Regions from separate parts of the Homo sapiens genome. Here region 2 is linked to region 1. The links come from fine-mapping of genetic effects on gene expression. A gene starts in region 1. The other region holds a variant in brackets. All regions are shown on one strand. Distances are from middle to middle.

Region 1 (4,380 bases):
CCCGACAGGCCCTCTAAGGCCTCCAGCATCCAGACAACGGTAGATTTACAACTGTCCACTAGTTGGGTCAGGTCAGCCAAATCAACTATCTGAAGGGACAAGAAGGGTTTGAGAGTGAGGAGTCATGCTGGGTCCAAGATGACCTCCACCGCACTCCACACCCAAAGCCAAGCAACCCCAAAGCTGTTTGAGGGCAGTGGAGCAACCCCAAAGCTGTTTGAGGGCAGTGGAGCAACCCCAAACCCTATGAGCCTAGTCCAGGTACCTTGATTCCCAGACAGTACCTGACAGCCTTGGGCAAAGTCATAAACCACCACAGTGTAGAGGTGAAGTCCCTGAAAGTACATCTGAAGAAAAGACTGCTGTTGCTTGGAGGAGCCCCCATACACCTGAGGAAGGAAGCGGAAGGTTGGTATGAGGAGTAGAGATAAAGAGGGCTCCAAGCTGAAGACTGACCCGGAGTCCTGGAGAGCTGACAGAGCCCAGGGAGCACGAGGAAGGACATCCAGAAGGGCCACTGCCCTCTCAGGATAGACTAGGCTGTTTGCTGGCTCGCTAGGCACTGTCCAGAGAGCAGCTTAACAAGGAGGGAGCCAGGACCTCCAGATCTTGCCAAATACCCTAGGCTGGTAGTGAGTCCACAGACCACGTCCCCACCCTACCTCCAGGTCCTTAACTCACACCATCATCCCGCAGCTGCTGCAGAAGAGAGCAGTACCCTCCAAGAAAAGCAAAGAGGCTCAGAATGGCATCAAGTCTATAGCGCCTCTTGGTGCCTCGTTCCAGGCCTGAAAGGAAGAACTGGCAGCTCTCATACAATGCCCGAAGTGGGGGTGATGGTGCCTCCATACTCTTGCTCAGGACAGCTGATGCCTTGATCAGAAGCTTGGCCACTGCCTGAGGTCCTTCCTCCCCAACCTGCAGCAGCTTAACCCCCAGCTGACATAGCTGAAGGCTAGGGGCTAGATTGGTGTTCCTTAGGTAACTGTGAGCCTTCTCCACTGCGCTGATGGCTTTGTCATGGTGGCGGCTCCAGCAAAAGCGACGGCAGTGTTCCAAGGTGAGCTCCAAGAGGCAGAGGGCCCTCTGGGGAGAAAGAAGCCCAGAAGAGCTCCCTCTCTCACCCACCAAGGCTCTGATCACGTGCCTGGAGAGCAGGTCATCTAGGAAATCAGCATCTGCTTCATTTAGACCATGGCCACTGGCATCAAATAGCTGATGGGCAGCTACCGCTCGACAGGCTGTTGGAGAAGCAAAGTGAGGAACCTCACAAGGGGTACTTTCATCCTCCAAGAGTACTAGGAAGCTCAAGGCCTTCAGCCGAGCTGCAAATGCAGCTCGCCGTTCCAACAGGGCTTCTGCCCCCTTCCAAAGCAGAGAAAAGCTGCCCCGAGCCACGGCCTCATAGTCCTGGGGAGCAGCCTCGCGAGAGCACTGCACCAAGCAGGCATGGAGGGGCTGAGCAAGGCGGAGTGTGGCCTCTGGGCTTCCTTGTGCAGCAGCATTCCGCAGTAAGACAAAGAGAATTCGTTCCAGGTAGAGGGGAGGACGCTGTGGGGTAGACACTAAGTAGCCATCACAGGCCAGCTCTGCCAGCTCCAGCAGGCTCCCCAGATGCCTAGGGCAAGCTAGCTTAGCAGTCAGCTGCTGGTTGCAAGCCCTCAGGATGGCATCACAAGCTTGTCTCCTCTCAGCATCAGATCGGCTGCTGGGAAAACCAGCTGGAGGGTTGGACAGGAACTCCTAGGAGTAGAGAAAGATATGAATGGGGCTAGCAAAGGCAGGAAAGAGGTAGAGAAAGTAACTAGAAATAGGGTTACTCAGAGAGGGTCGCCTACTTATCCATCTCTTCAAAAGGCAAACACAAAACAGCTCAGTTTGGAAAGCCAGGTGTATCCCGAGCCAGGCAGCACCCCCACCTTCAAGGCGGGCAGCAACTCTTCAGCCTCCTTCTGGCTGCTTAGCAGAGTCCCAAAGTTGACTCTTTTGAAGCTCCTCATGACACCGGAGAGCTAGGGAAAAGGAGACCAATTAGAGAAGATTGTTAATGAAGCTAACTGGAGGAAGGGAAGAGGGCTGAAGGTCGTGGAAGGAGGCAAAGAATCACATCAGAAATTTCATCGGGGAGAAAACCCACGCCAGGACGCCGTGCTCCCGTTATAAAAGGACGATTCCGCTCTTCCTTCCTCCGGGCAGATCCCCGACCGCACTACCACACCACTCGCCGCGCTACCCCAGAGGCCTCGGCCCAGCCCTTCAGCGGCCCGGGGCAGTCCCAAGGCCTCCCGACACTCCCTCCAGGAGCCACCCACGCCTCTCCTCGCGTCAGCGCTGGGGATCCCCTTCACTTCAGCACGTACCCACGCTCACGAGTCCCTTCCGGCCTTACCGCCCCAGAGCTCGCCCTCTTTCCTAGGTACAGGACTTAACCGCCTGACCAGTACTCCGCGAGGATCCAAAATGTAACCTTCGTTTTCCGCGCCAGACCCTCCTTTCAAATATCCGCGGCTGCCAATCAGCGGGCGCGGCGCAACGCCGGGCGCGCGGCACGCTGGGAGTTGTAGTTTACCCGCCGCGCTGCGCGCTCCCGCGGCGCCCCGGAGGGTCTTGCTGCTCTGCGCGTTAGGGCCTCTTGGGGGTGCGGGTTTCCCCCTTTTTTCCAGTCAGAGCTCAGTTTCTCAGCTACCTGTCGCTTAGTCGCTATCGGTAATGCCACCCCTTTTCCTCCTTTATCTTCAGAGCTCAGGCAAGAGTTTAAGTTTCAAGAGAAGAGAAATAACAAAAAGAACTTAGGAACTCACGCGGTTTGGGTTACTAGAAAAAAAGGGCTTAGACTTCTACGAATTTTTTTTTTGATAGGGTCTTGCTCTGACACACAGGCTGGAGTGCAGTGGCGTGATCACAGCTCACTGCAGCTTCAAACTCCCGGGCTTAAGTGATCCTCCCACCTCAGCCTCCCAAAGTGCTGACTACGGGCGTGCACCGCCACGCCCAACTTCCTACGAAATTATTTTAAAGATGGTTTTCTAGGGGAACTACAATGAGTACCCGTAGCGACCTCCAGCTCTCTCTCTGCCTTCCAGCCTTACTCCTTCTATTGGTTGTATGAGAAAGACAAGATCTGGTGCTCTTCGATGGGGGAGAGAGGGTAGTGGGGTGGGGTGGGAGTTGTGAGTAGCAGGAAGAACTATGGAAATTCATTCCCTGGGATATTTCACAGTCTTTAATGGCTTATGTTTTTAAGTACTAACCACTTCCCCAAACACAGATTCAGCTGTCTCTTTCCTTCCTCCACCAAAGAATTCAGCTCAAAAGTGGTTATCAGCTTGTCGCTGATGAACTCTACTGGATAACTCATCCTTCTCCATCATCATAGAGCTCTTTTATGAGTTGAGAATCTAGCAGGGAAGATTATTTTTGTAAAAAGAAAGAAAAGAAGGCCGGGCGCGGTGGCTCACGCCTATAATCCCAGCACTTTAGGAGGCCGAGGTGGGTGGATCACTTGAGAACCAGCCTGACCAACATGGTGAAACCCCATCTCTACTAAAAATACAAAAATTAGCTGCTGTGGCATCGGGGGCCTGTAGTCCCAGCTACTTGGGAGGATCGCTTGAACCCGGGAAGCGGAGGTTGCAGTGAGCTGAGATCCCGCCACTGTACTGCAGTCTGGGTGACAGAGCAAGACTCTGTCTCAAAAAAGAAAACCAAAAAAAAGGCCGGGCGCGGTGGCTCACGCCTGTAATCCCAGCACTTTGAGAGACCGAGGCGGGCGGATCACGAGGTCAGGAGATCGAGACAATCCTGGCCAACATGGTGAAACCCCGTCTCTACTAAAAATACAAAAAATTAGCCGGGCGTGGTTGCAGGCTCCTGTAGTCCCAGCTACTCGGGAGGCTGCGCTAGGAGAACGGCGTGAACCCGGGAAGCGGAGCTTGCAGTGAGCCAAGATCGCGCCACTGCACTCCAGCCTGGGCTACAGAGCGAGACGACTCTGTCTCAAAAAAAAAAAAACCAAAAAACAAACAAACAAACAAAAAAAACCCAAAAGAAAATTATTCATCACAGTACTCAATTCCTCTTGCTTACACCTTAGCTATCAGTGTTCATTTACCTATTGTTTAGCAAGCATTCTAGGACTTTTTCCCAACGTATTTTATTATACCTACTTTTTTCTTCTTTTTTTAAGATAGAAACGAGGTCTCACTATGATGCCCAGGTTGGTCTTGAACTCCTGAGCTCAAGTGATCCTCCGGCCTTAGCCTCTCAATGTGCTACAATTACAGGCGTGAGCCACTATGCCCAGCCTTTTTTTTTTTTTTTTTTTGAGACGGAGTTTCGCTCTTGTCACCCAGGCTAGAGTGCAATGGCGTGATCTCAGCT
Region 2 (4,380 bases), 20 kb before region 1:
ACTTCCAGAAGGGATTTGAAGTGGCTTTAGCACTGACCCAGGCCGTCTGGTAGAGAAGTCACTGGGACCCCCCGGGTCATTCCTAGAGCAGGCCTGACCCCACCCCAGAAGCACACACCTCCATCCTGTGGTCCAGTGCCAGCCGCCCTGTCCACCATTCTCGCTTGTCAGTACAGCTGCTGTTCTCTTTCTGTGCCTTCTGGATGGCATCAAACTCATTCAGGACTGAACGCAGATGAAGCTTTGGGAGATGGGGCTGTGAGAGCTCTGCTTGTCCACGTGATCACCATCTCTCCCTCCCTCAACACAGAATGTGAGCAGCTTGACCCGAAGCCCAATCCAGCCCAACTTTGCTCCATGGCCCAGGAATCCTACCTTGTTCTGGCCAGTGGGAATCTGCACACTGACTGGGGGACTGTCCTTTTCCAGCCGGGTCAGCAGGAGGGTGTTGCCCACGGTTCCGGGCTGGAGGGTGGCCAGGGCCAACACACACACAGTCACCCCTGACACACAGGATACAGCCAGACTCATTCAGCTGTTAAAGGAATTCCCTTCCCTGTCTTGGGCACTCAATTCCTATCCATCACTCAAGCCAGCATCAAGAAGCCTTCCCTGGTCACTAGAGGTCAAGGTGCTCTCCCTTGCTCTAATAGCTCCCTGTGCACAGAGACCATGACTTGTACTTTGTGTCCCTCACAGCAACTAACAAAGTGAGGCACTCAAATCATGTGAATATGTTTCATGTTAGCACAGAAGACCCCAGTCATCTGAACTCACCTCTGAGGAAAGACACTGAATTTGCTGGTAATTCAAAGTTGAGGTTTAAAAAAAACAACAAACCTTCCTGATGTAAGATGCTAACAGGTGAAAAGGTATGACATAAGGGTCATAAATCTATGTAAACTAACCAATGCCTAAAACTCCTTCACCCAGCTCCCAAGTAAGAAGATGCAGAAGAGGACAGAGGAGCCGGCCAGAAGGCTGCCCGCATACCACTGGGGATCAGAGCCAGGCGCTCCTGGAAACTCTCCTTTTCAGGCTGGGGGAAGTGGCCAGATTCCAAAGCCCTGAAGGAAAAGAGGCGCTGGATGCGGGCCAGGGGGACATCTCCAGGCATCTCCTGAAGGCTCAGCCCCTGCAGCTGGTCTGCTATTTCAAGTGATCCTCGGTGCTTCTGGGCCTTGCTGCAAGCAACACGGGGAGGGGTGAGGTCCCATTCCTTCAAAGTCTGGACCTTCTCTCTAGTCTGCCCCAGCAGGAGTCTTGGGGATGGTCAGCACCCACCTGAGCTGTCTGTGGAGGTGGGTGAGCAGCTGGTGGCGACAGGTGATGGAGACAGACTCGGTGACAAGGAAAGCAGTGGCATAAGGATCCCGGTGGCCCAGGCACAAGGCCAGGAAGCGGCAGAGGTGGGCATAGAGCCCACTAGGAGGACAGTGACTAATGCCCCGGAAAGCAACACTCAGGGAGTCACAGATGGAGTCCAGGGTAGAAAGACCTAGAAGAACGTCAGGACACTTGGTACAGCTGAATTCCTTATTTCATAGTTGATAGGAACTTTCCAAGAAGGAACAGTCCCTATCTCATCTCCCACATGGCAAACAGCAACTACCATTTATGAAGGGCAATGTGCCAAGTGGGGTGCCATGCAACTAACAGGCATCAACTTATTCCACCATGCTCCCTAAACCCCATTTTTACAGAAGGAATAGAAGCTTGGAGAGGTTAAGTGACCTGCACACAGCTCATAGACAGAGTGCTGGGGTTCAAACACAGGTTCAGAGGCTACTGGATCCAGATCCGAACCCAGCCTGGAAAGACAGAGGGGTCAAAAGCCCTAGAGGCTCAGCCCTCTCCAAGTGACCAACATCAGGGGTCGCATATTCACCAGTGGCTACGGGGGCTGAGGGGAGC[C/T]GGAGCCGAGGACCAAGGTCCTTGTCACTCTCCTTGTCTGGGCATGGGCTGGGCAGCTTCTTCTTGCTGGAATCCAGCCTCAGCAGCTCCCATTCTCCAGAAGCTGCCTCAGGGCCCGGAGCTGGAGTCTTCCCACCTGGGGAGAGAGCAGGCCTTTTTCACAGTGCTCCCTCCCCCTGCCATTCTCTTTGTTCTTCCTTCTGTAATCCACTCCCTTAGAGTCAGCAAAAGAACATTCTTCCTGTACTTCCTTGGCAGCACTTACTGCTTGTGCTTTGCCCCAGAACAAACCCCCAAAACATGCACCTTCCACCTCACCCTTGCTGTCCTACCTGAGGCTGAGTCTTCCCCGTCAGAGCCCCTGAGGATCTCAAAGCTCATTTTTCTCCAGTTGTCAGTCAGTTCTTCCTCAGGGATGGTCCTCATGATCTCAGGGCCAGGCCTGGCCTGGTCACTGGCCCTCTGGGGACGCCGCTCCTCACAATGTCTTGATGCCACCTTCTTGGCCCTCCGGCTCCTGCCATTCAGGCCAGGGTTCCCAGGGGCACTACCTGGGGCAACCACGGCATCCGTCTTTAGGCTCAGGCCCTTCCTTGCTCGCCCCCGGCCCCGGGAAGCAGTGCCCCGTCTCTTAGGCTCCTCTGCCAGCCAGGCCTCAGCTGAGACAGGGTCTTCCAAGTCACTGTCATCACTGAAGTTCACCTGAGATCAGAGTGAAAGGGTGAAGGGCTAAGAGGTCTTCAGTGACAAGACACCTTGTGACAGCAGGTGGCGTAGTGGAGGCACCATCAGGCACCATCACACAGGACCCTGGAAGATTTCAGAACTAACTTCTCACATGACAGCCAACACTCTAGATCAGGGGCAGCGACTCTTGGGTGTGGAAGGAGGGAGAAAATGAGGGAACAGAAGGTGGGATGAAAAGGTAAAAGAAACATTAGAGTTAAGGAAAATGTCTCTGTCTGAAACAAAGGGAGACTTGGAAATAGGTCTTGCTGTGAAAGATGTTGGCCTGGCACAGTGGCTCACGTCTGTAATCCCAGCACTTTGGGAGGCTGAGGCAGGCGGATCACCTGAGGTCAGGAGTTTGAGACCAGCCTGGCCATCATGGTAAAACCCCGTCTTTACTAAAAATACATAAATAAGCTGGGTGTGGTGGCACCCGCCTGTAATCCCAGCTACTCGGGAGGCTGAGGCAAAATTGCTTGAACCCGGGAGGTGGAGGTTGCAGTAAGCCGAGATCGCACCATTGTACTCCAGCCTGGGCGACAGAGTGAGAGTCCGTCTCAAAAAAAAAAAGAGGCTGAGCATGGTGGCTCACGCCGGTAATCCCCAGCACTTTGGGAGGCCGAGGCGGGTGGATCACGAAGTCAGGAGATCAAGACCATCCTGGTTAACACAGTGAAACCCCGTCTCTACTGAAAATACAAAAAATTAGCTGGGCATGGTGGCAGGCGCTTGTAGTCCCAGCTACTCGGGAAGCTGAGGCAGGAGAATGGCGTGAACCCAAGAGGCGGAGCTTGCAGTGAGCTGAGATTGCGCCACTGCACTCCAGCCTGGGCGACAGAGCGAGACTCCTTCTCAAAAAAACAACAAAAAACAAAAAAGCAAGATATTGGGGTACTGCAGATAGCAGGAGATTAAAGTTCCACTAGGCCCTGGGGAGCTATTCCACAGGGACACCTGCTCTATAAAACACTCTCCTCCAGGACTAACCCCATCCAACACCATCACCACCACCTAGCAACAGTCCCACCTCACCTTGAGGCGCGTCTGGACTCTCTGTTGTACCCTGGGGGCCTGGGGTACTTCAGGCTTGCTCTCTGTAGGGCAGACTTCCTCAAACACCGTGAAGGGGACATGAGGGCCAGCTTGCCTGATCCGGTCTGGGGGTTTAGGTGTGCAGGGCAGTCCTCTACCTTCCAGACCTTTCTGAGAGGTATTATTGAGGCGCAGGGGAGCAGAGGCTAACTTTTGGCGCCCTCGTCCAGAACGTTTTTGGCCCTGAGTCTTAGAGGGCTCTGAGCCAGGGACACTTTTTATTAATGGTGGCTGCCAGCCCCAGGAGCTTGCAAAAAGTTGGGTAGTACAGCAGCTGAGGCCACCTAGTTTTGTGAGGGCCCAAATCAAGAGCAGGCTGGCTCGCCAGGGCTCTAGGTGGGGTATCCGTGCTGCTACAAACTTCAGCCCTGACTGTAGAACCTTCTGCAGGCTCTCGTTTGATGGCTGGTTCAGGCCCTCCAGTGCCAACAGTGTGTATGCTTGAGCCAAGATCTCATCCAAGAGGCTTGGAACCAAGGAGGGGGGTGTTTTATGATTCAGGGAAGCTTGGAGAGCTTGGGTGAGGCGCTCAGCGGCTTCAGGACAGCCCTTCAGCACGACCTGCAGCAGATCCAGACCCTGGGCTTGGTGGCCCATGGCCAGCCTCACCCCTGCCGTGACCAATACCCAGCGCAGACAGACTGC

The links. PIP is the estimated chance that this variant, and not a neighbour inherited with it, causes the effect.
Region 2: its variant is the best candidate, but not a certain one, in a credible set for the expression of ESPL1 in tibial nerve (GTEx, PIP 0.68).

What each region holds. Positions count from the first base shown.
Region 1 is chr12:53,266,387-53,270,766 of GRCh38, reverse strand. ESPL1 (extra spindle pole bodies like 1, separase) reads right to left here and starts at 2,468. Exons shown (of 31, transcript NM_012291.5): 1 at 2,390-2,468; 2 at 1,920-2,012; 3 at 682-1,743; 4 at 285-389; 5 at 1-89. The coding sequence starts at 2,000. RefSeq lists enhancers at 2,022-2,101, 2,162-2,531.
Region 2 is chr12:53,286,208-53,290,587 of GRCh38, reverse strand. It overlaps ESPL1 (extra spindle pole bodies like 1, separase), which reads right to left. Exons shown (of 31, transcript NM_012291.5): 18 at 3,676-4,380; 19 at 2,247-2,616; 20 at 1,889-2,050; 21 at 1,285-1,498; 22 at 994-1,184; 23 at 376-503; 24 at 119-241. Among named protein-coding and RNA genes, the nearest start is that of PFDN5, 7.1 kb to the left of the region's middle. RefSeq lists an enhancer at 1-125. The variant C/T (reference allele first, on the strand shown) is at 1,915.